6 separate regions of the Homo sapiens genome follow, and all the other regions are reported to be linked to region 3. Evidence: microRNA targets listed by miRTarBase, many of them from high-throughput screens and not tested one by one. Region 3 holds a microRNA gene; each other region holds the end of a gene's coding sequence.
Evidence for each region. The annotated mature microRNA hsa-miR-6837-3p reads CCUUCACUGUGACUCUGCUGCAG and lies in region 3 at 2,512-2,534, shown strand. An mRNA with a match to its seed (bases 2 to 7 or 8) in the 3' UTR can be bound and repressed. Matches are read on the target gene's strand: a 7mer-m8 pairs with bases 2 to 8, a 7mer-A1 pairs with bases 2 to 7 and ends in A, and an 8mer does both.

Region 1 (5,073 bases), not on the chromosome of region 3:
TGACTATCCTATCTGCAAACAGAAAGGGCTCAATTAATACTTCCCAAAATCAAACCACAATACTAGAAACAAAATCAAGATGGCTAAAATAAGATGTTTATTATAAGTATTTTCTCAAAGAGAATTTTTAATAGGAGATTGTCAAGCTGTTTTATTTCCCTCTAAATTCACACTTCATTACAGGTAATATAGTATTCTATGGATTTTAGTGCGCCAAGACTAATCGTCTCTCCAACAAACAGCTTCACTTACATTTAGGAATAGTTTTCAGGGATTGCATTCTCTTTCATGAATATTACTATATTCTTAGTAAAGCAGCATATAAATCTACTTATAATCCAAAAGTAGGCTAACATTGGGTTTAGGTGCATCTAAATTCAAATTCTGTAGATGATTGGCAAAAACTTCCATTATGGGATACAATAGTTACTAAATGGAAGCACTTAGCTACATGAAAAAAATTATAAAGATATCAGATATTCAAAATTGACTTTTCCTTCAGATTAAGAGATAGCTTTATTTAGACAGCTGAAACAGGGCCTTGTAGGAGATGTTTAGTCTCTTTGACTATTCCCCAAAGATTATCAGGAAGGAATAACCTAACTAATTGTATGTTTTGTCAAGGCCTGCATTGATTTTTTACATGATAATTTTAAATAACCTGCATAATGTATGTGATGGTAAACAACATTATTTTATTTTAAAGTTATCCAAAGAACTGCTCAACAATATGAACAACAATATGAAAATACATAGTACAATGGCTGATTTATGGTTACTTCAAATTTCTTGTCTACAATGTAAATGCCTAAGTAGCTTTGATAATACAAACCAAATGAGTTCAAGGATACCTATAATAAAAGATATTAATGTGATATAGTTTAAATATCTTGTGTAAAATACTTCACTTACATAAAGTGCTTCAGTCTAACAGTTGACTTACAATGTCTAACATATAAAGACTCTCTAATATGGTACAAATGGAAGAATTAAAGGGTAGGATATCTATAAGACCAAATAAGTATTTGATTAAAAGTTTCCTTTATTTGCTGTAGCTCTCCACTTTCTTCCTTGCTGCTAAAATCCTAATGCCTTTTGATTAATAAGATGATAATCCTGTTGGACTCCTATGGTTGAATAACGTTTAATGTTACATGTCCTGAGAGTCCCACGAAATTATTGAGCAGCTGTCACCGACTTCATTTTCTTCTTCACACTCTCCCTTTCCTTTTCCACAGCGATCACGGTTTCCCATTCTCTCTCCTGAGGTACTTCATAATGCAATATTCAGACCTCAATCTTACTTTAAGTCACAAAACACTGCCTGAGGCTTACCTTAGTTGCTATTTTTACTTATCATTTATTTCTGCCAAAAGGAACTCCTCTAAAATTATTTTCATCAAGAATTTTCATTTCATGTTTTATCATCTAAGTTTGAACGCTAATTTTCTTGAACTATAGAGGAAGGTTTTTTTTCTCTTTTTTTCTATTTCCAGTGTTTTCTGCTAGGGATTATTATAACTTTAGGAAACATAGAGGTATTTGTAAATATATTTTAACGAATTTGTGATATATTCAAAATAAGAGCATTGATGTTTCACTAAGGAATGTAATCAAATTGTATGGCAAAGCTAAAAATGATAGAATTTAAAAAGTGGCTATCGTGAAAAGTAGAAGCCCCTAATCTATAAGATCAATTGGAGAGGTTCGCTGTGTCACCCCTTCTTGGAGGAACTTGAAAAAATGCAGGATAAGGGCAAAGAGAACCAGGACAATACCCAACTCCTATGTGACACATTGTAAACACATGTGATAAAGAACCCTTCTTTTAGGTTGGGGTGATGATAAAAATGCAAAGGCATGGCATCAAGAATGCTTTTTTCCATTTATGTGACCAAGTTTTCAGTAAATAATTTATTACAAATAAGCTTTTCCTCCTGCCTTTATTAGATAGCTATTGCTGTATAAGAAAGTACATCCCAAATTTGACTTAAAACAACATTTATTATCTCACAGATTTTGTGGGTTAGGAACCAACCTGGGAGTAGCTTAGCTGGCTTTTTTGCATCAGGGTCTCTCGTGTGGCTCCAGTGGTAGGGCTATACTCAACTCAAGGTTCCACTGGGGAGAACCTGCTTCCAAATTCACTCTTGTGGTTATTGGTACGATTCAGTTCCTTTTGAGCTGTTGGCTAGAAGCCTCCCTCAACCCTTGCTATGTGGGCCTCCCCAGGGGGCAGTTCCCAACATGACAGCTGGCTTCCATTGAGAGAGAAGGCATCAAGAGACAAACTCATCTTTTTACCACCAAATATCAGAAGTGATATCCTGTCCCTTCTGCTGTATTCTATTCATTAGAAGCTAGTCATTAGGTCCCACCTACACCCAGAGAGTGAACCACCAGGAAGTGAGATTATTGGGAACCATCTTAGAGGCTGCCTACCACATGCAAAATACGTCCCCCCTACTCCTCAGATCCTCAAAAGTTTCACTTTTGCATTACAACATCAGCTCAAAGTTCAGAATCTCATAATTGGAATCAAGTCAGGGTGATATCATAACTGGAATCACCCCAGGCTTCCTCAGGAGGTAGTTCTTTAAGTACAGTTCCTGGAACACAGTTGCTTTCCATCTGTAGACCCATGAAACTAGAGAAAAGTTATCTGCCTTCTACTCACAGCATAAAATTATGGATAAGGCATAACCATAACCATCACCATAACATTCTGTCCACAAAGCTGGGAAATGGGAGACATAAAGGAGTCACTAAGTCTAGCCCATGCTCAAGGGGAGGAAATTATGCAAGGTCTGAAACTAGGAGGTGGGGCCACCTTAGAGGCTGCCTACCACACTGCCCTTCTATTTGATTGTAATAATAAAAGGAGTAAAACTTTTGATAAATATTTTATGAGACTTCAGGTGGGGCTGATACCTAACATATATGGATGGCATTGCTGCTTGTATTGCTAGTTTTTTCCTTTGGCTCAGAGTAAAAATTCTTTTTGATTACAAGAATATCAGAGGAAATTGTTTAACAATTCTATTTCTCTTTATCATGGCTATAGATCTGATCATTGACTATTAGGTTGGTTTGTTTCCCAAAAATTTCCAAAATATTTTCCTAAAGTTTAATACAACATTTGTTATAGCTCCATGCTTATTCATGTGGCTGCCTTCTATATTTCTTCTTCAATTTATCAATACATCTTATATTTGCATAAAATTCAAACTACATCCCTTGGTGAAACATAATGTCTCTACTTTGAACATGGGAGATTTTCTACTTTCTTTTTCATACTATTGACTAGAGAAATAACTTCCCCTTCCCTTTATGCTGCTTTCTGAAGTCCTGCTAGAATACTCCTTATTGTCCTTCCTTTTTCTATCAGTCTATGGTTCTCAACCAACAACAGTTTTGCTCTTCGGGGGACATTTGGCAATGTCTGGAAACATTTTTGGTTGTCACAACAGGAGGGTGCTACTGGCATCTAGTGTGCAGAGGCCAGGGATGCTGCTCAGTAAGCTGTAATGCACAGGGCAGCCTCCGTACAACAAAGAATTATGGGGCTCAGAATGTCAATAATGCCAAAGTTGAGAAACCCCAGTGTAAAACAAACCAGTCCTTCTTCCCACTTTAAAAATGAAGACATTACAATGTTGCTTTAGCCTTGGTTACTATATAAATCTACTTTTTCCCCCCAAAAGCAAACATTTCCCCAAAATAACAAAAATGTGGAGTTGTGATATAAACTACAAATTGCAGGCAAACCAGGTTCTACTCAATTACCTAACCACTGAAGAATATAGCTTGAGATAAAGGGCATGGAGAAAAGTGAAATTTTACTAAATGTGCAGTTTGAATACTTCTTTTGATTGAGCAATATATACTGAATGTTTTGTGACACTTTGAGATCTAGTTTTATACTTTAAGCATATGTAATTACTGCTAACTGGAAAATATCTAAAATATGTATATCCAAACTAGAGCATGGATTAGGAGTCTTTTTTATTTGTTTGCTCTCAAAATGATGCCAACATAACAAAAATTTAGAACAATGTACAGCAGCCAGTATAGAATCCCTAAGATAACTATAATATTTTTAAATAAATAATGCTTCATATTTTTATTGTTTCATGGCATTTCCATTCACGAATCACCTTTTTTCCTAAATAAGTGTATCTATAATTTTATGAGTCATTTGTCCAAATATGTAGAACAGGGCTTTGGGAGAAAACAAATACACTCACAATTTTTCTCAATTGCCAACAGACTAGTTTATTTGTTTCTCTTGTAATACGAACATGCTATTCTCTTAGTTTTTATCTTCAATAACATATGAAAGATCCAAAATCAAATTGGCTGTCTCTACAGCCACCTGTAGGCCACTAAGCTTTGCAGTCAAACAGTCCAAGGTCAGGTTGCTGGCTGAGCCCACAGCTTCATGTGGAAGGCAGCTTTGTGGCACAAATGGACGACGTGTGCTTCTTAAGAAAGACCAGTTGAGTTCTTCCTGGCTATTGTATAATCCACAGCCACACTGTGAAAGCAAATCTGGCCAGTTAGCAACACAGGGAGAATCTGCCTGAACTGACCAAAGGTGTCCATACTTCATGTCAGTGAGAATTTCACCTCCATCATGTTCTAAAGAGCCAACAACAGATTCTAGGGCACTGCAAAATGCTTCAGCAATTAATTGAAGTTCTGTTTGAGTACATTCATCATCTTTGAGAATGCTTTCTGGGTCGTTGTGAGTCTAAAGAGTAATAAAAACATTGAAAACACATACAAAGCAATTAATATAAAATGTTTCAGAAAAATAAGATACTGAAATCAAAATCTTATTCCTAAAGTAATTACTTACTTTCATTTAATTTGGGGTCTGGCACAATGCTAACGGGCTTGTATGGGTCAGCCGGCCGGGTTGCAAACCCTTAACTAGGTTGGTTATAGTAAAAATGTATTAAAAATGTATATACTACCAGTCATGTTACCAGAATGAGTGAATCAGAATAACCCCACCATCAGCTTATTCTGAATGAGGCTTGGTAGTGCCTCCTTAATACATGAAGGACT
Region 2 (5,073 bases), not on the chromosome of region 3:
CGTGCCTCAGCCTCCCAAGTAGCTGAAAACAGCACAACCTGCTAATTTTTGTATTTTTAGTAGAGATGGGGTTTTGCCATGTTGGCCAGGCTGGTCTCAAACTCCTGGCTTCAAGTGATCCACCGTCCTCGGCCTCCCAAAGTGCTGGGATTACAGGTATGAGCCATAGCGCCAGGCCTGAAACAAACTTTCAAGTAAGACTAAAACTGTTCCGTGTAGCTGATGAGTTGTTTTTCCTGCCACTCATTATAAAAATACAAAAATTGGCCGGGCACAGTGGCTAACACCTGTAATCCTACCACTTTGGGAGGCTCAGATAGACAGATCACTTGAGCCCATGAGTTCAAGACCAGCCTGGGCAAAACCCCATCTGTACAAAAAATACAAAAATTAGCTGGGCATAGTGGCATATGCCTGTAGTCCCAGTTACTCAAGAGGCTGAGATGAGAACGAGAAACACCTGAGCCCAGGAGGTCGAGGCTGCAGTGAGCCGTGACTGTGCCACTGCATTCCAGCCTAGGCTATAGTGAGACCCTGTCTCAAGAAATAACAAGAACAACAAAATGCTCTTGCTTTCAAATTATTTTATTGCCCATCAAATTGTAAATGTTTCTTCAAGACTCTTGATCAGATAATTATGAGAAGTCACACAACATACAGGAGATGACTGGGCTTCAATCGACTTTACTTGTCAATAACAGAGTACAACTGAACTTTAAGTGGGAGCTGAATTTCTTTCTTTCTTTTTTGAAACAGAGTTCCACTCTTGTTGCCCAGGCTGGAGTGCAATGGCACGATCTTGGCTCACTGCAACCTCCGCCTCCTGGGGTCAAACGATTCTCCTGCCTCAGCCTCCCGAGTAGCTGTGATTACAGGCATGTGCCACCATGCCTGGCTAATTTTGTATTTCTTTTTTTTTAGTAGAGACAGGGTTTCTCCATGTTCGTCAGGCTGGTCTCAAACTCCTGACCTCAGGTGATCTGCCCACCTTGGCCTACCAAAGTGCTGGGATTACAGGTGTGAGCCACTGCGCCTGGCTCTTTTTTTTTTTTAATAGTGTCTTGCTGTTACTCAGACTGAAGTGGCGCCATCATAGCTCACTATAGCCTCAAACTCCTGGGCTCAAGCTATCCTCCTTCTTCACCCTCCCCCACCATGCTCGGCTAATTTTTAAAATTTTTAGTAGAAATGAGGTCTTGCTGTTTTCCAGGCTCGTCTCAAACTCCCAATCTCATGCAATCCTCCTGCCTCAGCCTCCCAAAGTGCTGGGATTACAGGTGTGAGCCACTGTACCCAGCTGAGAGCTTAAGTTTCTTGCATAAAACTCAGCTGTATGCTGAAGTGTTTAGAAGTGAAATGTAATGATGTCTGCAACTTACTTTGAAATACATTAATAAAATGGATAAATGAATGGATAGAGGGATGGATAGGCAGATTGACATGTGTAAAACAAATAGAGAAAAATGTTATTTGTAGAATCTAGGTGATGCTAAAGGCCACACAGCCAGTGGGGACTGAGCCAAGCTAGGAATCCAGGTCCACCAATTCAGGAGAGGCTATGTGGTGAAGTAAAGATAACACCCCGTTCCCAGTTTTTGTATCTGTTTTTGTTTTGAGACAGAGTCCTGCTTTGTAGCCCAGGCTGGAGTGCAATGGAGCCATCTCAGCTTACTGCAACCTCTGTCTCCCAGGCTCAAGTGATCCTCTTGCCTTAGCCTCCTGAGTAGCTGGGACTACAGGCATGTGCCACCACGCCTGGCTAATTTTTTGGTAGAGATGGGGTTTCACTATATTGCCCAGCTGGTCTCAAACTCCTGACCTCAAGTGATTAACCAGCCTCAGCCTCCCACAGTGCTGGGATCACAGGTGTGAGCCACCGTGCCCGGCACCAGTTCCCATTAATTATCTTGGAACCCAAGGATTCAAAGAAGCAGTCTTTTCAAAGAGATATTTGAGTCACTGACCACCAGTCCTGGAATGCAGAAATGCTTAGTCCCACCTACCTCTTTTGTTCATTCCTTCAAAAGTTTCCTCTTCAAAAGTAGGGCTAGCAGATCTAAATGGGCCAGAAAGAACTCTCTTAACTGTTGTTTTTTGTTTTGTTTTGTTTTTTGAGACTGGAGTCTCACTTTGTCGCCCAGGCTGGAGTGCAGTGGCGCGATCTCAGCTCACTGCAAGCTCCGCCTCCCGGGTTCATGCCATTCTCCTGCCTCAGCCTCCCCAGTAGCTGGGACTACAGACGCCCGCCACCATGCCCGGATAATTTTTTGTATTTTTAGTAGAGATGGGGTTTCACTGTGTGAGCCAGGATGGTCTTGATCTCCTGACCTCGTGATCCACCCACCTCAGCCTCCCAAAGTGCTGGGATTACAGGCGTGAGCCACCACACCAGGCCTTTTTTTTTTTTTTTTTTTGAGATAGAGTCTTGCTCTGTTGCCCAGGCTGGAGTGCAGTGGCGCTATGTTGGCTCACTGCAACCTCCACCTCCTGGGTTCAAGCCATTCTTCTGCCTCAGCCTCCCAAGAAGCTGGGATTACAGGTGCACGCCACCAGGCCTGGCTAATTTTTTTTTTTTTTTTTTGAGACGGAGTCTCGCTCTGTCACCCAGGCTGGAGTGCAGTGGCGCAGTCTCGGCTCACTGCAAGCTCCGCCTCCCGGGTTCACGCCATTCTCCTGCCTCAGCCTCCCAAGTAGCTGGGACTACAGGCACCTGCCACCACTCCTGGCTAATTTTTTTGTATTTTTAGTACAGACGGGGTTTCACCATGTTAGCCAGGATGGTCTCGATCTTCTGACCTCGTGATCTGCCCGCCTCGGCTTCCCAAAGTGCTGGGATTACAGGTGTGAGCCAACGTGCCTGGCCGTTTTTTTTTTTTTTTTTGGTATTTTTAGTAGAGATGGGGTTTCACCATATTGGCCAGGCTGGTCTTGAACTCTTGACCTTAAGTGATCCACCCTCCTCAGCCTCCCAAACTGCTAGGATTACAGGCGTGAGCCACCGCGCCTGGCCTTCATAACTGTTGACATACAAGCATTACAGTAAAAATTAGACTGGAAAGACTATGCCTTGATTTCAACTTTAATCACAATTAATTTATTCTTTCTTTAAAAAAAAAATGTAATCCCAGAACTTTGGGAGGCCAAGTCGGGTGGATCACCTGAGGTCAGGAATTGGAGACCAGCCTGGCCAACATGGTGAAACCTGTCTCTAGTAAAAATGCAATTAGCCAGGCATGGTCGTGGGTGCCTGTAATCCCAGCTACTCAAGAGGCTGGGGCAGGAGAATCGCTTGAACCTAGGAGGCGGAGGTTGCAGTGAGCCAAGATCATGCCATTGCACTCTAGCCTGGGCAACAAGAGCGAAACTCCATCTCAAAAAAAAAAAGAGGCTGGGTGCAGTGGCTCACGCCTGTAATCCCAGCACTTTGGGAGGCCGAGGCGGGAGGATCACGAAGTCAGGAGATCGAGACCATCCTGGCTAACACGGTGAAACCCCCGTCTCTACTAAAAATACAAAATATTAGTTGGGCGTGGTGGCGGGTGCTTGTAATTCCAGCTACTCGGGAGACTGAAGCAGGAGAATGGTGTGAACCCAGGAGGTGGAGCTTGCAGTGAGCGTAGCTTGGGCCACTGCACTCCAGCCCAGGCAATAGAGACAGACTCTGTCTCAAAAAAAAAAAAAAAAAAAAGAATCCTCCGGCATTATATCTCCAGCTACTGTGGCCCAAGAATATATCTTTATCAAAAAATACAAAATCCAGGGAACATGCAAATATCTGAAGAAGAAAAAAACACTGCAATCACTAATGCATACAGTGAAGAGTTGGCCCAGTTCCAGAGTCCGCTATGTTTGATAGTTTGTGCACTTGCAGAATGAGAGTGGGGGGGGAGTTCCCCACCTGAGGCCACTGTCCTCTCTATGGCCACCTCTAGGTCTTCAAGACCAAGGAACACCTACACTCCAGGTGTCTCCTTGCCAGATGTTTCACCTGCATTGGTAAAAGGCAGAATCCTCGGCAGGGGTCGGTGGCTCACGCTTGTAATCCCAGCACTTTGAGACGCCGAGGCGGGTGGATCACGAGGTCAGGAATTCAAGACCAGCCTGGCCAAGATGGTGGAACCCCGTCTCTACTAACAGCACAAAAATTAGCTGGGCCTGGTGGCGCATGCCTGTAATCCCAGCTAATGGGAAGGCTGAGGCAGAGAATGGCTTGAACCCAGGAGGCAGAGGTTGCAGTGAGCCGAGATCACGCCACTGCACTCCAGCCTGGGCGACAGAGCATGACTCCATCTCAAAAAAAAGAAAAGAATCCTGGGATGAGCTCCGCCCCCCCCACCAGCCGAGGGACAGGCCTGAGGTATCCCCTCTATTCTGGGGGGTCCAGAGTGGGTGCAGGCTCCTTTAATAGGCACTGGAATGTAGGGGACCCCATCTCAGAGGAGTAGGAGAGATACAGGCCAAAAAGCAGAGAGCTACAAGGGAGAGAACAATCATGAAGGAAAAGCCAGTTAGGTGAATGGTTTTCAGTGAAGGATGGGACGTGAACACGGGGCCCTGTGTGCTGGAGCTTCAGAAAATGGGGTCAACCCCCAGGCACCTTTTCAGATTCCTGCCTCCTCCCCACAGCCCTCTGTGCCCCTACCTCTGCTTTTTACCTAAGGCAGAACTTTGTTTTCCTCAAACGCCCACTTCCTTTCCTTATCCCCCAAATACACAAACCTTGCCTCTTCCTCTCCAGGGAAACGCTGACCAGTTTGTGTGAACGCCATCACCCACACTCTTGAAATATATCTGGAAAGTGCCGGAAGTGAACTGGGGGATCCTTGCCTCCCAAAACAGGGATGGGCTCTGAACGCCCCACCACGGCCTGCTGCCACGCGCGCCTCTCGCTGCAGGAGCGGTGGATCCACCGATGGGCTTCCAGGGCGGTCTTGCGCTTGAAGCCTTTCCCACACTCCACGCAGGGGAAGGGCCGGCTGTCGGAGTGAATGCGCCGGTGACTGAGGAGGAGGGAAGAATAGGTGAAGCGGCGGCCGCAGTCAGGACAGGGGTAGGGCTTCTCGCCGGTGTGTA
Region 3 (5,073 bases):
ACAGGTGCCTGCTGCCACGCCCAGCTGATTTTTTGTATTTTTAGTAGAGATGGGATTTCACCGTGTTAGCCAGAATGGTCTCGATCTCCTGACCTCGTGATCCACATCTGCCCGCCTCGGCCTCCCAGAGTGCTGGGATTACAGGCGTGAGCCACTGCGCCCAGCCCAAAGTTCTTATGAATAATTAATCTTTCAGGAAAAGAAAGCCATGGCCCCATGTCACCCATGGAGAGATAAGGCTCTGCTAGATAGAAAACTTGCTCATGGGTACCTGTCCGTGAGGGGCTTGGCAGGTTCATGGCTTTAACTGTGTGATTTCATGTCGTGTCATTCCTTTGTGGTTTCTGATAAACACAACCTGTGGTAGTCTGTGTTTACCAAAGAGTCTCAAGCCTGGAAGGACCTGCTGCCCTACCCACCAGGCTTCACTGGAGCCAGGGCAGACGTGCACAGGAGTGGTGGGCAGCCTTCCAAGGGGCCCAGTGTGTGTATTTCTCCGACTTGCTTCTCCTTTTGGGTGCTCTGGGTTCAGGAATATGTAGATATGTTTTGTCTCTTCAAATCCATATACCTAGTGGCCAGGTGAGTATTTGACACATGAATGTATAGCAGTCATTGGGAAACTCCACAGCTCATGTTTTCCTCATAGTAGATGTGTGCTCCCATCTCCATGGCTTTGTCCCTCACAACCCCCACCCCATGGTAAGTCAGGCCAGTGTCCTCCCAGCTGCAGAGCTGAGAAGGCTGCACAGTTGCCTACTGAGAACCTGCCTAGTGGGTCAGAGCAAAGTGAGAACGGGCCTGTGCCCACCCACAGTGTTACTGTCAGCCCAAGCTCTTTGGGATGTAGTGGAAAGTCATGGTGGATACGGTGAGGAGAGATGGAACCCAAGGTGCTGGCTACAGAGCTCACTTGTGTTTCGTTTCAGGGCTCTCTTTACCTATGAAGGCAACAGCAATGACATCCGCGTGGCTGGCACAGGGGGTGAGTATGACTCCAAATGGACTCAGGGACACCAGGAGGTAGGAGGGTGACGACGAGGGGTCAGCGCACTCAGCTGTCTTGGTCCACTGAGCCACATGGGGCTTCCAGTGCTCACTGGCCACTTCTGGCAGGCCTTAGGTTTCAGATATGTGTAAGTGAAAACATTCCTCCTTGGTTCTCCTTCCCTCTGGGTGCAGGGGAGTGCTTTCTCTTTGTCTACTTGGGGAGAGCTGAGAGGGAAACAGGCCTCTCCAGCTTGTGGGCAGCCTGCGTTGGGAGCTGCGGTGGGAAGCTCACCAGTCCCAGAACTGGTGCTGGTGGAAAGAAAGTCCACAGACATATCTTCTTCTCCCTTTGTCCTGCCCTGGTCTTGTGCCGAGTGCTTGCAGGGGCCCCATCCTCACTGGGAGAGGCAGTATCACTGCAGATAGTCACGGGGGAGGCTCTGGAGGTCTCTACAGGAAGGACAGGCTCTTGGCCAGCACAGAGCAGAGGTTGTCAGGGTAGGCTTCGTCAGAGTGTGACCTGTGGGCCCCTCAGCTGACACCCGTGACTGCTCCTCCTCCAGAAGTTGCCTGACCCCTCCCTCTGTCCTGAGCTGGACATGGCTTCATTGTTCAATGAACACTCGGAGTGGTTCTCCACGGTTTGATGTCTGTTGTTGGTAGAAAGCCCCTTCCTTTCACAATCTTTCTGGGAGGTGTCCCCTTTCTAGAAGGATTGCCATTGAACAGTAGACATGTGGTGTGGCAGGTGACTGGGAGTTGCAGAGATCAACAACTTGAGAGTTTCCTGTCATCCCCAGTGGCACAGGACAGGGCTCTGCCACAAATGCAACAATTTGCTGTCCCCAGAGTGGGGCTCATGACTGCCTCCACTCATACGGAGCCCTGTAGATGAAATACCTGATCAGCTCTTCCTCCTTATAACCTGGAAAAGTTTGTGAGGGCTAAGCCTCAGTGTCAGGGAGAATTGTTTAGAGCTGCCCACTCCTGTGCTCCCCCTGTCCCCATCACCCTCTCTTCTGGAGTCTGAGGACTGAGCCAGTTACGCCACTGCAGGATGTTCAATCTGGTCTGGCCGTCTGGGTGGCCCTGGAACTTGAGCAGACACAGGTGCAGGCAGTGGTGACTCTACAGGCCCTGCTATTCCGGGCCCTTTTGCAACGTTGTGGCAACAATAAAATTTTGACGTAGCCATCCTCCATTTGGAAGTCTGGTGGCTGGTTTGCCGTGGAAATGACCCTGTTTTTATTTCCAGAATTACCTCTGGGTTTAGAGAAGTGGTTTTTAAACGAGTGTGGGTAAAAAAAATTACCTGAGGTACTTGTCAGAATCGCAGACTTCTAGGTCCCACCCAGCTCTCATCAATCAGTTTAGTGAGGGTGGTGCCCAGGACTCTGATTTTAAACATACCCCTAGAAAGATTCTGATACAGGTAGAGGTGAGAAGCCCTGGTTTAGAAGCAGCTCGGCCTCCCTTCATGGTGGGACCAGGGCCAGCAGGGAATGTCAGGGCCACCCCTGACCTTCACTGTGACTCTGCTGCAGAGGGTGGCCTGGAGGAGATGGTGGAGGAGCTCAACAGCGGGAAGGTGATGTACGCCTTCTGCAGAGTGAAGGACCCCAACTCTGGACTGCCCAAATTTGTCCTCATCAACTGGGTATGTGGAGCCTGTTTCATCTAGGTGTGACCCAGGAAACCCCATTGTCTTCTTTCCTGTTTTGACTTGACTTCAGGAACAAAGTGTTTTACTGGCATGACTTAGTAGATCAATAGAACAGCTCTGAGCTGGTGAATGAGCAGAATAGTTGACAGATTCATTGTGGCCCAAAGAATAACTGTGGCTTTGCTATGCAGAATTCACCTTCCAAGCCTAGAGTTCTTCCTGCAAAATGGATTAAAAGCAGTCACAGGGAGTCCTTGCTCCGTGCTCTTGAGGGTGGTTGTTCTGATGGAGTAGAGAGCCTGAGGGAGTGTTTAGGAGCCTGGGAGTACAGGGACAGGGCCTCCTTGATCCCTTGGTGGGGATCAAGAAAACTCTTGAAGGCTGGGTGGGGTGGCTCACACCTGTCATCCTAGAACTTTGGGAGGCCGAGGTGGGTGGACTGCCTGAGCTCAGGAGTTTGAGACCAGCCTGGGCAACATGGTGAAACCCCATCTCTACTAAAATACAAAAAATTAGCTGGGCATGGCAGCGTGCACCTGTAGTCCCAGCTACTCAGGAGGCTGAGGCAAGAGAATTGCTTGAACCCAGGAGGCAGAAGTTGCAGTGAGCCAAGATTGCGCCACTGTACTCCAGCCTGGGCCACAGAGCAAGACTCCATCTCCAAAAAAAAAAAAAAAAAGAAAATTCATGAAATGCCCCCACAGCGAAAGCCGGTAGCCATCCTGCCCAGGGAGAATCCATGAGCCCCTTGGAGGCATGGGAACTTACCTCACCCATGTGATGCAGTCAGAAGAATAGGTTCTGCTTTGGGGGTTGCAGTTTTCTCTTTTCTGGGACACAGGGTAGATGTTGGGTCCCCAGGGAAGGGAAGTGGCTTTGGGGGAGGCCTGGGTCAACCTGGGCATCCTTGTGTTGCAGACAGGCGAGGGCGTGAACGATGTGCGGAAGGGAGCCTGTGCCAGCCACGTCAGCACCATGGCCAGCTTCCTGAAGGTAAGGCCAGGTGAGGCCCGCTTCACTGGGAACAGGCCTCACAGGCTTGAGGTCTCGCAGGTTCCTGGGTGCGAGCAAGTGGGAATCAGAACTGGAGTTGGGAGTGTGCTCATAGCTAATGCTCTCTGCCTGCCTTTGAGGGCATGACCAGAGGCTGCTTCACTCTCGGTCAGTGAGTGCATGGGAGGTCAGGATGTTGCCAGGGCCACCTACAGGCCTGCCTCAGTGGGGCAGGATAAAGGACTATGCTGGAGCTGGTGCCGTGAGAAGGGTGGGCCCTGGTTCTGTTTTGTTTTATGATCCCTCTAAACAGTTTAGTAATACCGTCAGGATTTGGAGGAAGGGGAGAGTGCCCACCATCTTAGCACGCATGTGCCCTTTTGATGCATTCCTTTCCAGCCCCCTCTACATGGAGTTATGTCAGTCCTATAATAGAACCTTTTTAAATTTTAAAAACTATTTGTAACAAAAGCATTTGTTGGTCACTTGTCAGGTAACTTTTTGCATTTCTCTGGCAAAGGAGACTCAGAATTTTGATTTCTCGTTCTGCCAACATTTCTTCAGCTATACCTCAGTTTCCATCTAGGAGCTGATAAGAGAATTCCCAGCTTATCGATATACAGGTTTGAGTATCCTTTATCTGAAATGCTTAGGACCAGAAATGTTTTGGATTTTTTCAGATTTGGGAATGTTTTCAGTTCAGCATCCAAAATCCGAAATTCTCCAGAATCTGAATTTTTTTTTTTTTTTTTTGAGACTGAGTCTCGCTCCGTTGCCCAGGCTGGAGTGCAGTGGCGTGATCTTGGCTCACTGCAAGCTCCGCCTCCCGGGTTCACACCATTCTTCTGCCTCAGCCTCCCGATTAGCTGGGACTGCAGGCACCCGCCACCACGCCCAGCTAATTTTTTGTATTTTTAGTAGAGACGGGGTTTCACTGTGTTAGCCAGGATGGTCTCGATCTCCTGACCTCGTGATTTGCCCGCCTTGGCCTCCCAAAGTGCTAGGATTACAGGCGTGAACCACCACGCCCAGCCCAGAATCTGAGATTTTTTGAGTGCTGACATAATGCTTAAAGGAAATGTTCATTGGAGCAGTTCAGATTTTGGAATTTTAGGTAAGGGATGCTCAACCTGTATAGCAACAGTGAATGACGTCATGGGTCTGGCTTCTTATGAAGAAATCATTGGCTTACTTTTTGTAGAAAACATGCATGGCATTCTTTTATCAGAGTTTTTTTTAATTGTTTTGTTTTTTGTTTGTTTGTTTGTTTTGAGACAGTCTCACTCTGTCACCCAGGCTGGAACGCAGTGGCACGATCTCGGCTCACTGCAACCTCTGCCTCCCAGGTTCAAGTGATTTTCCTGCCTCAGCCTCCTGAGTAGTTGGGATTACAGGTGCCTGCCACCATGCCCGGCTAAGTTTTCTAT
Region 4 (5,065 bases), not on the chromosome of region 3:
AAGCCCCATCTCTACAAAGTTTTTGAATAATTAGCCAGGTGTGGTGGCACACGCCTGTAGTCCCAGATACTTGGGGGGTGCTGAGGTGGATCACTTGGACCCAAAAGCTCGAGGCTGTAGTAAAGCTATGATCGTGCCACTGTATTCCAGCCTGAGCGACAGAGCGAGACCGTCTTAAACAACAAAAGTGACTGAGGATGGGAGGCAGCCCCTGCCTGCACAGAAGAAAGCGGGATGGTGGGCACGTGAGGCTGGGGGCTTACCGGCAAACACAGCATTTGGCCTGCACCGCAGCAGCCTTTGCTCATAACATTTTGATGCCACTTTTTACCTTTACCTAAATTTGTTAATGTATTTGTTAAAACATCTGTGTTATAAAAATGATTTATCCTCATTGTTGAGAATGTAATAAAAGGTACTTTTAAAGTAGGAAGAAATCTTTTGAGAGGCATTTTCTGTTCAAATTTTGTTATATTTTCATCCTGTTTCTGTAGTTTGTACATATGTTGCAAGAGAGGGAAGAGTGGCATTTAGAACCATCACAGCAGCTGCTGCAACCTTTTAAAAGAATGACAAAATTTATCTTTAGAGAAGTTGATTTCCTTTTATCTGGGAAATGCCTTGAATGAGTTTTTTTGGGGGGAGTGTGGGGGGGGAGAAATGTTAAGCAGCATTCACCCCTGCCTTGCTTCCCACATGGTCTGAAAGGAGAAAGTGAAACAGAAAGAGGGCTAAGTGGAAAGGAGTTTTGGAAATTACTCGTTGATAACCTCAAGCAGGGGTAAGGCCCGGCATGTATAGAGGAGTGGCCAGATGTGAGGAGAGAAGTCTTGGCCCCGGGGCCACAGACAATGGGAAATTTCCTTGGTGAGAAATGTTTTAATTATCGTAAGAAAGCATCCCCAAAGTTGGCAGCATTAGGCAAAAATTATTTCTTACATTTCTGGTTTACAGGGCCTAAATTGGGGTCTGTTGCAGAGTTGTCTGGCATTGTCTGAAGGCTCCCTCTCCCTTTCAGACACTGAGTGTGGCAGCTTACAGTACGACTGCACTCAGTTTTTCATTCCCCATTCTGTGGAACAATACATTCCTGCATGCTGCAACATCACTTGCAGTTACTTCCTGCAAGAGAAATATACTTCCCCACCTCAGTGACACTGGGCTTGGCAAGGGATTCATCTCAGCCAGTGGATGTATTAATATATGCCACTGTGCTTCCACCAGCTTTTTAATTTCCTTCTATAAGAACAGCATGTTCCAAACGGGCTGCCCATCAGCCTGGATCCTGGAATGAAAAAGACATAGAGCAGGGTTGCAGCCAACCACTGCCATGCAACTGAGTGAAAACATTGGTTGTCATCAAGTCTGAGATTTGGGCGTTACTGTAGCATTTGTGACCCTTAGCAAAGCTAACTAATGTGCTAAAAGTCACAAACTCAACACCTGCAGACAAGGAAAGCAAGTGAGGCAGAGGGTGTGTGAAACTATGGGGATGGCAGGGCTAAGGCAGATGGGACCAAATCAGCCCAAGGATAAGCTCCAGTATTAAACGTTGTTATATGAGTTAAAATTTTTAAAGCTGCTGATTTGGTTAAACACCAGGTCATGATTTTAATAACACAGCTAATATTTACTTCCTGAAAGCTTAATATAGTTGAAAACAAAAAATATAATGACCCAATCTCTTAATGTTTTCCTAATCATTTAACTTTGTAGGTTCTTTTAGGCACCAATCTTCAGTTCAAAAGAAACAATCTTCTGAAACTTGTTTGTTTTTTTTTTGTTTTTTGGTCTTTTCTAAAAGTGAAAGGGAATTATTTTTTATGTTAAAAGTTCTCTCTAGAAATGTTTTGAGTTAGCTTCCCAAACATCGATATACAGAAATGTGGCACTTAGCAATGGAGATACATTCTGAGAAATAGGTGATTTTGTCGTTGTGCAAACATTAGAGTGTACTTACACAAACGTAGATGGCATAGCCTACTATACACCTAGGCTACATGGTAGAGCCTATCGCTTCTAGGCTATAAACCTGTACAGAATGTTACTGTACTGAATACTTACTGTTGGAAACTGTCACACAATGGTACTGGTGTATCTAAAATAGAAAAAGCACAGTAAAAAAAACCAAACAGTATAAAAGATAAAAAATAGTACACCTGTATAGGGAGGGCACTTACCATTAATAGAGCTTGCAGGGGTGGAAGTTGCTCTGTGTGAGTCACTAAGTGAGTGGTGGGTGAATGTGAAGGCCTCAAACATTACTGTGCACTACTGTAGACTTTACAAACATGGCACATTTAAAGTAGGCCACACTAAATTCATTTAACAATTTTCTTTCTTCAGTAATTAACCTTAACTCACCGTAACTTAACTTTACAAACTTTCAAACTTTGACTCTTTTGTCAAAGTTTTTTGACACTTAGCTTAAATTTAAAACACAAACATCTTGTAAAACTGCACAAAAATATCTTTATATCCTTATTCTGTAAGTTTTTTCCTATTTTAAACTTTATTTTTCTACTTTTTAAACTTTGTTAAAAACTTAAGACACAAACACACACATTAGCCTAGGCCCACAGGGTCAGGATCATCAGTATCACTGTCTTCTATCACCACATCTTGTCTCACTGGAAGGTCTTCAGGAGAAATAGCATGAATGGAGCTGTCATCTCCTATGATAACAATGCTTTCTTCTGGAATACCTCCTGAAGGACCTGCCCAAGGCTCTATTAAACATTTTTTTAATAAGTAGGAATAGAACACTCTAATTATAAAAAGTAAATACACAAACCGGTGTCATTTATTGTCATTATCAGTATTACATACTGTACATAACTGAATGTGCTGTACTTTTATACAACTGGCAGTGTAGTAGGTTTGTTTACACCAGCATCTCCACAGACACGTGAGTAATGCACTAGGCTATGACATTAAAACGGCTAAAACATCATGAGGCAATAGATTTTCTGCTCCATTATAATTTTATGGGACCACTATTGTATATGTCATTATGCAGTACATAACTGTAATCTTCTGCAAAACCAGTCAAATCTAACCATGCCACAAAAATAACTACCACCATCTGTCTTAAAGAACGTGACTCCTATATGGATGGAGATTAACAAGGGCATAGATCGATTCTATAGAATATTTCATTTAATTGATTTTATTATAACTGGATTAGGTCTGAGCCCTGGGAAACAGACATCACCTTGTTATACAGAATCACACATTATAGTTTTAACTGAAGTTGTTTTTCATATAGGACAATCATAAATATGAGTATTACAAGAGCTGACTACATACTTTCAAGTTTATATTTCCTGACAAAGGATATGACCTTTTTCCATCCTGTAATTCAGAGAAAAAGAACCACTTGCCCTATATAAACTCTAAAAAGAAAACTGCATAAACCCAGGAACAGGGGGCAAGGAGTGCTCCCCTTTGACCTACTATTAGCAGGTCCAACAAATGATATATCACCACGTCTATGAAGAAATTTCTTTCTATAAAAGCACAAAATTTAAATCGGATTTGACTTTACATATTAGGGCTTTCATCTTGATGAGAAACTCATAACAGCAGCAGCTCAAACTGATTGTTAAAAGGAAAAAACACAGGGCAGATTAATAATGCAACTTGGATCTTCACTCTTCTCTTTCCAATTCAAATGCTGGAATATGACACTCTTTTTATAATATTCTGCCCATGAGGTTCTCTCCCTTCTTTTCTGCCTTCAGAGTCCTTTCCAAAAGGAAATTACTGCCTTGCATTCTACATTATTCCTAATTTCCAGGTGGAAAAATGAGACAAATTAAGTGACTTCTAAAAACACTAGGAACTGTATTTTTTAAAAACAAGACAATACTTCAGATTTTCTTGCTTTAATTCTTCTCTATATTACCACAGTAAAATATTTAACAAAGTCCAAGAGATTACTGATATGCAATAATGACCTATGACTTTACATTAATGGAGTGATGTATCAATAATAAACTGATCAGTTAAGTAACTGGAAAATGTTTGCATGTAAAGAATGATTCACTATCCTTTTTATCTTGTATTGAAATCGTCAAAACATTTAAAAACACAAAGTTGAAGTAATTTTAAATAATAATAACTGTGAAATACTGCAACATCTTGAAGTACTTTATAAATGACCAAAAACAGGTAAAATTTTGTTCAGTATAACTTCAGTGAAGAAGTTTTTTGACACAGAACTACATATATTTTTAAATTGGTAATCCACATAAGATATACACAAAACCTTCAAGTGACTACATTGTTCAATAAATAAAACTCTACATTGTTTTGTTTTTACAGCCTAGTGAGCTTATAACTCAGTAACACCCTTTTAAGAAATTCTAGTCTACAGAATGACATGTCCAAATTGTTTGGTCCTATTAATTTCTTTAGCAAAAACCTCCAATTCCTTTATATTTAATTCCTCCACATATCATCTTTGAAGGGCCTGACTAATAAATCACAAGTGTAACCCTCCAGTCTCCAGTCTGGGTTTTTCATGAGTTTCAGTTCAGTGTAAGCCAGCACACTGACCTCCCCATGAATTTTCCACAGTACCTACTTTATTTAACACTTTCCACAAAGTATCCTGTCCTTCTAGGCTTTTTGTAGAATGTGAAGTTAATAATGGCATGTGGTGTTCCTTAGCATGACCTGCCAAAAAGTGATGATCTCCTTGGAAGAAAAGCCATGGGCTGCAATCACACGTCTCAGTTGACAGACATCCAAATGGATTCTATATAGAAAGAAAAGATTTGTGTCTTCTGGAATATGAATGTTCACTTTTAATAAATTCAAACAGATCCCGACATAAACATCTTCAAACTTGATGGGTTTTACGTGACCCATCATTTCATAGATCCTTGGCACCAAATCTCTGGACATTATATAACCCAACCCACTGCAGTATGGAGGGAACACCTTGAAAGGATACTCCTGGTAAGAAATATGGGTTTTTTGGTAAAATCCTCTATAGGAATAATTATCAATTAGAGGATAACCTGTGAAAAACTTCTCTGAGTGGTTTAGGTTTAAAAGA
Region 5 (5,073 bases), not on the chromosome of region 3:
TATAGAAACAGCTCTGTGATTTATGCAGAATAGATCTTATTGAGCTCATTTTACAGGTAAGTAAGCTGCCTTTCTTAATCATCTGTCCTTTATTGGTACAGGGAAGAGGCAGATGCTCTCTATGAAGCTCTGAAGAATCTTACACCATATGTGGCTATTGAGGACAAAGACATGCAGCAAAAAGAACAGCAGTTTAGGGAGTGGTTTTTGAAAGAGTTTCCTCAAATCAGATGGAAGATTCAGGAGTCCATAGAAAGGCTTCGTGTCATTGCAAATGAGATTGAAAAGGTCCACAGAGGCTGCGTCATCGCCAATGTGGTGTCTGGCTCCACTGGCATCCTGTCTGTCATTGGCGTTATGTTGGCACCATTTACAGCAGGGCTGAGCCTGAGCATTACTGCAGCTGGGGTAGGGCTGGGAATAGCATCTGCCACGGCTGGGATCGCCTCCAGCATCGTGGAGAACACATACACAAGGTCAGCAGAACTCACAGCCAGCAGGCTGACTGCAACCAGCACTGACCAATTGGAGGCATTAAGGGACATTCTGCGTGACATCACACCCAATGTGCTTTCTTTTGCACTTGATTTTGACGAAGCCACAAAAATGATTGCGAATGATGTCCATACACTCAGGAGATCTAAAGCCACTGTTGGACGCCCTTTGATTGCTTGGCGATATGTACCTATAAATGTTGTTGAGACACTGAGAACACGTGGGGCCCCCACCCGGATAGTGAGAAAAGTAGCCCGGAACCTGGGCAAGGCCACTTCAGGTGTCCTTGTTGTGCTGGATGTAGTCAACCTTGTGCAAGACTCACTGGACTTGCACAAGGGGGCAAAATCCGAGTCTGCTGAGTCGCTGAGGCAGTGGGCTCAGGAGCTGGAGGAGAATCTCAATGAGCTCACCCATATCCATCAGAGTCTAAAAGCAGGCTAGGCCCAATTGTTGCGGGAAGTCAGGGACCCCAAACGGAGGGACTGGCTGAAGCCATGGCAGAAGAACGTGGATTGTGAAGATTTCATGGACATTTATTAGTTCCCCAAATTAATACTTTTATAATTTCCTATGCCTGTCTTTACCGCAATCTCTAAACACAAATTGTGAAGATTTCATGGACACTGATCACTTCCCCAATCAATACCCTTGTGATTTCTTATGCCTGTCTTTACTTTAATCTCCTAATCCTGTCAGCTGAGGAGGATGTATGTCACCTCAGGACCATGTGATAATTGCGTTAACTGCACAAATTGTAGAGCATGTGTGTTTGAACAATATGAAATCTGGGCACCTTGAAAAAAGAACAGGATAACAGCAATTGTTCAGGGAATAAGAGAGATAACCTTAAACTCTGACCAACAGTGAGCCTGGTGGAACAGAGTCATATTTCTCTTCTTTCAAAAGCAAATGGGAGAAATATCGCTGAATTCTTTTTCTCAGCAAGGAACATCCCTGAGAAAGAGAATGCACCCCTGAGGGTGGGTCTATAAATGGCCTCCTTGGGTGTGGCCATCTTCTATGGTCGAGACTGTAGGGATGAAATAAACCCCAGTCTCCCATAGCGCTCCCAGGCTTATTAGGAAGAGGAAATTCCCGCCTAATAAATTTTGGTCAGACCGGTTGCTCTCAAAACCCTGTCTCCTGATAAGATGTTATCAATGACAATGGTGCCCGAAACCTCATTAGCAATTTTAATTTCTCCCCGGTCCTGTGTTCCTGTGATCTCGCCCTGCCTCCACTTGCCTTGTGATATTCTATTACCTTGTGAAGTAGGTGATCTTTGTGACCCACACCCACACCCTATTCATACACTCCCTCCCCTTTTGAAAGTCCCTAATAAAAACTTGCTGGTTTTGCGGCTTGTGAGGCATCACGGAACCTACCGATGTGTGATGTCTCCCCTGGACACCTAGCTTTAAAATTTCTCTCTTTTGTACTCTGTGCCTTTATTTCTCAAACCGGCCAACACTTAGGGAAAATAGAAAAGAACCTACGTGACCATCGGGGCAGGTTCCCCGATACCCAATGACCCCAGAGCAGTGCAGCCACCAGGGAAGGTGAGCCAGACACAGGCCGGGACAAAACGCAGACATTTTTTAGGGGAATAAAGAGGGCGAGGTAAAGTTTATGGAACTCAGTGTTAGGAACTTTGGCATCTGTAGCTGAGCACAGCAGGGGAGGGGTTACTCAAGATGGCAAGTGCGCCAAGGAGAAGGCAGAAATGCTGGGGCCTGGAATAAGGGAGGAGAGGGGACTGGAGAGTGTGGGGAATGGAAAGAAGCAGTTTACTCTAGACTAAAGAGTATATTGGGGGAGGAAGAGAGGGAGGCACGTAGGAACAAGCAATGAGAAGACCAGGAAAAGAAAGAGCTGAAAATGGAGAAAGCCACAGTTAGAACTGTTGGATACAGGAGAAGAAACAGCGGCTCCACTAAAGACCCGCCCCCCGGTTGGATGTCCTTCCAAGAATGGAATCCTTCCCTGGTGATGGTCTCTCACCCTGTCTTACCAGCATCCACTCTCCCTTGTCCTCCCGGGGGTGTATCTGAGTCAGCCAGTGGCTTCTTGATGATGGTGGTGGTGGTTGTAGTGTGACAGGTCCCCTTTAGGTTATTTAAGGGTGCATGTCCCCTGCTTGAACCCTGAAGGCCGGGTAATGAGCCATTTCCATGGTGCCCAGCTGAGGACCAGGTGTCTCTGAGAATCCAAACATCCTGGAGAGTATCTGAGAACCAACCAAGTAAAAGTCTCGTTGCTCATATATAGTAGACAAAGAGCCAGAAAATTAACTGAAAAGCAGTTTAGACATTGGGGGAGGCTGGATCTCTCGAGCTGTCTTGCTGAGTGCCCTGTGTGTAAGTCCTAATAAACTTAGCTACTCGCCAAGCTGGACTTGTTTAAGTCATTCCTTGGTCTCATGGCTCCTTTCCCGCTTTGAGGGCAAGTTCCTGTCTCAAGTTTTTGTCCTAACAGTGGTAAAGGTGATTGTGGTGATGTCAGCAGACAGCAAGAGGACTTGACATGGGGTCGGCCCTGCTTGGGGCCAGCGTACACTGAGGGACCGATGACATTTCAATGAAACTCCAAATGCTATATTGGAAACGTTGATGTGTGAAGAAAAATAAAAGCAAAACCAGATGCCAGGAACAAGTCAAGGAATGTTGTGGTGCATTGAGGAGATGAACCAGCCTGCAGTCAAGAGACCCCATCTCTCTGAGCCTCAGTTTCCTCATCAGCTGGGAAAGGGGGGCTGGACAAGATGATATCTCACATCCACCTGGCCCTCTTCTCTTGTGTTCTAGAGACTTGTGTTCAAGCAACACTGACTGATGACTGAGCCTTTGTGTGTTGATATATGGGCTCCCCTAGGCTCTGGGTGCCTGACTTCTCTTCCTCATGATTCTTCTTCCAGGCTCTCAGGGAGCTAGGCCTCCATGGCCCCTTCTGCTTACTCTCCAGACTGCTCATTTCTCTGCGAACCCAGTGCCCAGTGGCCCCTGAAGCACTCAGGGAAAACTTGTAGACTTCTGGCTTGGCTCTAGTACAGGCGTGGTCCTGATCTAGCAGCCAGGGCCCAGGATTGACATGGGTCACATGAGGCTAAGATCAGAAGGGCCTGTATGTAGGTTGAAGGAAAATCCATGAGACATAGAGGGACAGAGAGAGACAGCCAGACAGCAAATACCCTCATCCAGTCTGCAAACACCCTCATCCAGTCAGCCTTCTCACTTCGCCCAGACTCCTGCAAAAGCTTCCAAAATGGTCTTCGCTGATACACAGCCCTTGCCGCTAGGCCAGCTCTTCCTCCACATTGGGCCAAGTTGACCCATAAAAACACAGATTTCATCAAACACCGGCTTCCATGTCTTCAATGGCTTCCTATTACTCTTAGCACAAAAGCCCAGAGCCTTCATGCTGTCTAATGTAGGCTGCTGTGGCCTGAGTTCCCCTGAAGGGAGAGCCCTAGGCAAGGCTCCCAGGCAGAGGATTTGTTTGGGAAGTGATTCTAGGAGCAGGACTGGGGTACTGGGAGGAGTGACACAGAGAAGGACAGAAGGCTGATGCCGGGAGAAATTCTTGATAGGGTCACCCATGTGGGCGACTGGAGACCTCCTGAGGAGTCTTCAAGGAGCGTCTTCAGAATGTTCCTCTACAGGGAGGAGAGAGGGAGGCCTGTAACCACTGCTCCTGTCCCCCATGGCCTTGCCCCAGTGGACATTAATTATCTGTATTTCCATGCATAGAATATAGAACTGCTGGGCGCCTCAGCTGGAGCCCAGAGCAGGGGCAAGAGATACAGAATGCACAAAATCACCCCAGAACCTCTCCTAAGTCACTCGTAAAGTGCACCCAGGGCCTACTTAGTCCTTTTTTATGTAGCATCCTGCAGAACACTTGCCTCAGTCCCTGTAACTCTCCATCAGCCAAGGCTTCCCTGACCTTCAGTTGATTCATCTATTTCTTCCTGAAGAAGTCAACAGAGCAACGGCCACCGACTTGCCTAACGCCAGAACATTGTGTTTCATTTGTCTGTCAATTGTTCATCAATTCCTGGATAATTCCCATTCTTTTCATACATTTCACTTAAGCTTTGAATGTTTCTGGCACTGAGTAATTTACTTCTTCAGTGATCCAGCCAGCATTTGCCCTGACACTTAGAGTTGAAATGCCATCAGGCTACCTGCATTTGATGCAATTCCACTGTACTGCTAGTATTGTTTAAAAATTTTTCAATTGCAAGCAACAGAAACAGAAACTATCTGTCTTAAACAAAATAGAAGATTCATTGGATGAAAACTAGAGCAGGTCAGAGGATGGAAGGAAGAACAAAATCTACAGAATTTGGAAGGACAGGAGCAGACCATTACCAACATCAGGAATATATGGTTTGCCCTTTCAGGGCTCTGCCTGCACCTGGCTTAGCTCCACACACTTTGATTCCTAGTGTCTCTGATTAAAGTTTCACATTCTCAAATGAGAGGATAGCTTGGGTCAGTGACTGTTCTTGAACCAATCAGTCAGGCTATGGTATCAGGAACAGCGATGAGTAACAGAGACACAAACCCTAATGGG
Region 6 (5,073 bases), not on the chromosome of region 3:
CTGCCTCCTGGGTTCAAGCGATTCTCCTGCCTCAGCCTCCCGAGTAGCTGGGATTACAGGCGTGAGCCACCATGCCCAGCTAATTTTGTATTTTTACTAAAGACGGGGTTTCTCCATGTTGGTCAGGCTGGTCTTAACTCCTGACCTCAAATGATCCGCCCGCCTCGGCCTCCCAAAGTGCTGGGATTACAGGCGTGAGCTGCCGCACCTGGCCACAACAACTCATATTTTAAAAGATTGAGCTGATCCACATAAAGTGCTCAGAAAGGAACTTGTCATCCTCTTTTACGGCTGAAGAAACTTATGTGTCTTGTAAGTTGCAAGCCAGGACTCAAACCCTGCTCTTGGGCCAACTCTGGGGCTTAACCAGACACATTCCATTTTTGCCTTGTACCAAATTCCTATTCATCTAGCAAAGCCTTAGCCACAATGCCCCTCTGTTGGGCAGCCTTGTGTGATGACCCAGGGAAGAGATTGCTGGACCCCCTTAGGGTTCCTGTATCTGACAGTATTGTGGTTCTGGCTGCCTACAAGCATAGAACCCCTATTCCTGTCCAAGGGATTCCCAGGGACCAGGGAAGGAGCCCTACCGTGCCTAGTAGCTCACTCCGCATCTCGCTGGTGTACCGCGCCCGTGACTGCAGATGCACCGTCTTTGTGGCGGGCACTCGCTCTCTGGCTGTGGTTGGCACACGGCCAGGGGCCAGGAACTGGTTGGCCAGTGCTTTCTCTGAGGAGGAGGTCTGCAGAAATGTGGGAAGATAAGTCACTGGAGGGGCAGGTCCTGGGGACCAAAGTGAGCGGTGATGGGGGCTGAGGGGGCAGGGGCACCCCTTCTCACCAGCTTCTCGGCTTGCAGCATCCCCTTCAGAAAATCCACCTTCCAGGAATATTCATTGATCACCTCAGAGGCCGGTTTGCTGGAAGGCAGGAAGAAGAAAAACAAAACCTGTCCATGGTCCCCAGCTCAGGGAAGGGTCCCAGCTGGGATAGCGGTACTGGGATGTCCAGTAGCACAGCCACGTGCTGATGTGAAAGCCCTGAGGCTGCCTGCACTCACCTCGCGTGGACCTTCAGGGCCTGCAACATGTCCTCTAGGGCTCCCACGTACTGGGGAGGAAAAGTGGATTGTCACCCGGGGGTCTTTCCCATGTCCTGATCATGGGAGTCGGGGGGGCGGGGCCGACAAATGGGAGGGGTCAAGCGTAAAGGAGGCGGGGCCAGTGGGGGAGGGGCGGAGTCCCAGGGACGGGGGCGGAAGCTACAGGTGGACGTGGCGGGACTGACCGGAAAGGGCGCTGCCCGAGAGGCTACTGGGGCCGGGGAGTCGGGCCAGGTGGCTTCCAACCCTAGGAATCACCCCCCGGGAGTCGGGCTCTACGCGGCAGTGCGAGATCCCCTCACCTTCTCCAGGCGCCACTCGTCCGGGTCCCGTTTCTCCGCTGCCATCGCCTCGCAGCGGGATAGCAGCCGCACCAGGTTTAGCTCCAGCCTCGACGCCGCCATTATCGCCCGGCCCTACACCACCCCTTCCGCCGGCTCCATGTTAAGAGAGGGCGGAAGTGCCTTCAAGTGGCCTTCCGGGCGGATGTTTCCCCCGCGCTCGTTAGCTGGCCCATCTTTGTTTGGAGCGGAAGTAATATCTTGTTTTGAGACGGGGCGCTGGGCCGGGCGCGGTGGCTCAGGGCTGTAATGCCAGCATTTTAGGAGGCAGAGGTGGGAAAGGATTGCTTGAGGCCAGCCCGGGCAAGATAGCGCTACTCTATCTCTATTTTAAAAAAATAGGAGAGGCGCCACCCCATTCTTACTTAGGCGAATCACTTGCTTTTCCTCGAGAGCATGTTAACCCTTCGGGAATGATAGGACGACCGGGGTCTTCTGGTGTCAGACCCGCGTGCAGTGTGCCCTTTTGTTCTGTTTTGCCTGCTCAAAGTACCTCCCCGCACCCCACTCCTACCTGGATTCTTCCCAGTCGGAGCTATTTCACGTCCACACACCCTTCCCGATTTCTGTAGCCTGGGATTCAGGAATCCAAGGCTTCCCCCACCTCAGCAGGGCTCATCTGTATTGTGGTTATGGGTTTCCAGGTCACAGCTCCAGCTCTGATTCCATCCTCGGCCCTGGGAGAGTTTAACTTTTCTGGATCCGCTTCTTCCCCCGGGAAATGGACAGTGTGACAGTACCTGCCTCAAGGGGCACATGAGACAGCTCTGCCTGAGAGTGAGCAAGGTGGGGCTGGGTCCCCCCTAACGCCCAGACCCCCATGGAGAACCCCTTCCCAGCCCACCTCAGTACCTGGAAGCTGAGTACCCCTATGCCTTGCAGTGCCTCTCTTCTGGAGTGACAGGATGAGGGTGGGGGCTTCACAGGAACCAGGGCCTGGCATGCAGCCTTCATGTTTTCCCACACCTTAGGTCATCTGCACCTTGGTTACACCAGTGGGCCTGATGTCCTTGAAAAATATCATAGACGGGTAGGTGCGGTGGCTCACACCTGTAATCCCAGCACTTAGGGAGGCTGAGGCAGATGGATCACCTGAGGTCAGGAGTTTGAGACCAGCCTGGCCAACATGGTGAAACCCCGTCTCTACTAAAAATACAAAAATTAGCCGGGCGTGATGGTGGGTGCCTGTAATCCCAGCTACTTGGGAGACTGAGGCAGGAGAATCGCTTGAACCCAGGAGGTGGATGTTGCAGTGAGCCGAGATTGTGCCACTGCACTCCAGCTTGGGCAACAAAGCAAGACTCCGTCTCAAAAAAAAAAAAAAAAAAAGAAAATACCATGGAGGGCCAGGTGCGGTGGCTCACGCCTGTAATCCCAGCACTTTGGGAGGGTGAGGTGGATGGATCACTGGAGGTCAGGAGTTTGGAGAGCAGCCTGGCCAACATGGTGAAACCCTGTCTCTATCAAAAAACACAAAAATTAGCTGGGCTTGGTTGTGCGTGCCTGTAATCCCAGCTACTCGGGAGGCTGAGGCAGGAGAATCGCTTGAACCCGAGAGGTGGAGGCTGCAGTGGGCCGAGATCGCGCCACTGCACTCCAGCCTGGGTGACAGAGCGAGACCGTGTTTCAAGAAAAAAACCCACAACAAACAATGGAGACCAAACCCAGGGCCCATCAAAGGGGCCTCTAGAGGCTGGCAGGGCAGAGTCTAAATCCCAGCCATGCCCCTCCCAACTGTGTGGCCTTGGAGAAGCCCCTCAACCTCTGGCATGTGCTGTCTGAACTTGGGTTCTTCACGGTGCCCCAACCAATACCAGCCAGCCAGTTCCCACGACTCCCATCCGATGGCAGCCTGGGAGCCCATCTGTTCCTGTCCTGCTGGGCCCACCAGGAACTGGCCACCTCTGCTGGATGGGTGGCTGCTGCAGCTGACATTTAGGCTCCAGAGGCTGGGCACTGAATCAGGGAGGCCAGAGAGGGCTGCCAGGACAGCAGGCGCTCCTGGCCAAGTGAGGCTCTGCTGGGAGCTCCCTGTTTGGTGGAGGATCAAGACAGAACTTTGAGGACAGTGTTCCACCCATATTCTGCACCCTTCTTGGCTGAGGCCACAGGGCAGACCCCCACCCACCGGCCCTGTTCTTCCAAGCCCGATCCCATATGAGCAGGCGTCCCATGCACACACTTCTCAGGCACTTTTTATTTCATGCTGTGCGGGGGCCCCTTGTCCCAGATTTGTGGCCACGTGTCCAGGTGTCTGGGGGAGTGGGCCAAGCCTGAGAGAGGAGGGCCCTGCTCCAGAGATCCCCAGGTTGTCCCTGTTGACCTATAGGGAGGTCTGACTTCAGGCGTTGCCCTCCTGACCCGTGAGCAGTCCTGAGTCGCTGGCTCCTATTCTGTCACACGGGGTGGGTAGTGCCAAAAGCAGCCTCCTGCAGCCCTTGGCGTCCGGAAGAGTGACAGCCACATTCAAGTCTCCCTGGCACGTGAGGTCCATGGTGCCCCTGACTCATGTCCTGGCTCCAGCCAATAGCCCAGACCCCCATGGAAGGTTCCAGCATGTGCAAAAATGCACATTGGCCAGGTGGCTGCCCCCCGGAGACATGTGTCAGAGAGGCACGGGTCAGGTGACCCAAGTGTCCAAAACTCTCATGGAGGGTCCCAGCCCATTGGCCACCCCAAGCCAACCACAGCAGGGTCTGAGCCTCAGACGCGCAGTGGCCTAGTGGCTTCTGCTCTGACAGCTCACGTCCAGGTTATAAGGGAGACGGGCAGCGTTAATAGAAAACTTTGTACATACACATATAAAAAACCATTTGGTCTTCCATTAAGGCTGTTACAGTTTAAAGTTACGTAAACCACGTACAAAGAAACAGTTAAACGTACAAAAAGGGGAGTGGGGAGATGTGAGGCCGCAGGTGGAGATGTGGTGCTCCCCACAGGTGCGTCCATGATTTGGGGGCTGCGTGCGAGGGGGCCTGGCTCCAGCCGGCCTCTCCCTGCCTTGACTCTGCACTTGGGGCCGGTGCCCACCTCACGTCACTCTTGAGCTTTTGATTCTGGATCCTTCTCTGAGGGCCGAACACTAGCTCTGCAGCTCTGGCGCCCAGCTCCAGTGCAGGGGCCGTCCTCGGACATGCAGACTTTGTCAGCTGTGGCTCTCAGCCATTGGTCTGGCCCGAGGCGGGGGGCAGGCAGTACGTTGGGGGATCCGAGTACCTCCGCTTGGCCCCAGGTGGCTGGCCATCCTCTTCTAGGGGCTCCAGGGCGCCCTGCACTGGCAGGTCTGCCCCGGGCGTGATGTACACGGAATGTATCTGGTCCGGGCGGCGGGCAGGTGGCTCCCGGCGCCGCACTGGGGCAGCCGCCTCCCGGGCACCCGGTGCCCAGCGAGGCAGGTGGGAGGGCAGGCCTGGTGGGAGCTTGATGTTGGCCGTGGGCATGATGGGGGTCCGCCGGGGGGTCTTCACTCTGACCGTTACGAAGGACGACGGCCTTCGTCGTGGAGGGGCGGCCACGGTGGGGAGGGGGCTCGGGGTGGGCGCGCCGGGGCAAGGGAGAGCAGGCGCAGGGGGCCCTTTTGAGAGACAGATGGCAGGGTTACTGCAGCTTCAGGGCCGGCAGCCGGAGGAC

Region 1: the mRNA of MKKS is a reported target of hsa-miR-6837-3p. Seed matches in the 3' UTR shown: 7mer-A1 at 1,209-1,215, 7mer-m8 at 903-909 and 7mer-m8 at 243-249.
Region 2: miRTarBase lists ZNF785 as a target of hsa-miR-6837-3p. The part of its 3' UTR that is shown has no 7-base or 8-base seed match.
Region 4: miRTarBase lists B3GALNT1 as a target of hsa-miR-6837-3p. Seed matches in the 3' UTR shown: 8mer at 3,648-3,655.
Region 5: the mRNA of APOL4 is a reported target of hsa-miR-6837-3p. Seed matches in the 3' UTR shown: 7mer-A1 at 1,013-1,019 and 7mer-A1 at 1,104-1,110.
Region 6: the mRNA of MYO9B is a reported target of hsa-miR-6837-3p. The part of its 3' UTR that is shown has no 7-base or 8-base seed match.

The regions. Positions count from the first base shown.
Region 1 is chr20:10,400,935-10,406,007 of GRCh38, forward strand. MKKS (MKKS centrosomal shuttling protein) reads right to left here. Exons shown (of 6, transcript NM_170784.3): 6 at 75-4,753. The coding sequence ends at 4,313. Among named protein-coding and RNA genes, the nearest start is that of MKKS, 31 kb to the right of the region's middle.
Region 2 is chr16:30,577,792-30,582,864 of GRCh38, forward strand. It overlaps ZNF785 (zinc finger protein 785), which reads right to left. Exons shown (of 3, transcript NM_152458.7): 3 at 2,865-5,073. The coding sequence ends at 4,769. It also overlaps a transcript of ZNF688 not described here. Among named protein-coding and RNA genes, the nearest start is that of ZNF785, 5.4 kb to the right of the region's middle.
Region 3 is chr7:44,049,296-44,054,368 of GRCh38, forward strand. It overlaps MIR6837 (microRNA 6837), which reads left to right and starts at 2,471; the gene lies at 2,471-2,534. DBNL (drebrin like) reads left to right here. Exons shown (of 13, transcript NM_001014436.3): 2 at 930-985; 3 at 2,535-2,647; 4 at 3,572-3,646.
Region 4 is chr3:161,081,112-161,086,176 of GRCh38, forward strand. B3GALNT1 (beta-1,3-N-acetylgalactosaminyltransferase 1 (Globoside blood group)) reads right to left here. Exons shown (of 5, transcript NM_003781.4): 5 at 2,772-5,065. The coding sequence ends at 4,648. Among named protein-coding and RNA genes, the nearest start is that of B3GALNT1, 22 kb to the right of the region's middle.
Region 5 is chr22:36,186,941-36,192,013 of GRCh38, reverse strand. It overlaps APOL4 (apolipoprotein L4), which reads left to right. Exons shown (of 4, transcript NM_001386885.1): 4 at 102-2,886. The coding sequence ends at 939. Among named protein-coding and RNA genes, the nearest start is that of APOL4, 12 kb to the left of the region's middle. RefSeq lists an enhancer at 1,412-1,913.
Region 6 is chr19:17,211,839-17,216,911 of GRCh38, reverse strand. MYO9B (myosin IXB) reads right to left here. Exons shown (of 40, transcript NM_004145.4): 40 at 3,626-5,017. The coding sequence ends at 4,602. It overlaps USE1 (unconventional SNARE in the ER 1), which reads right to left and starts at 1,555. Exons shown (of 8, transcript NM_018467.4): 1 at 1,405-1,555; 2 at 1,061-1,110; 3 at 842-920; 4 at 591-743. The coding sequence starts at 1,506. RefSeq lists a silencer at 1,162-1,231 and enhancers at 1,252-1,571, 1,335-1,915.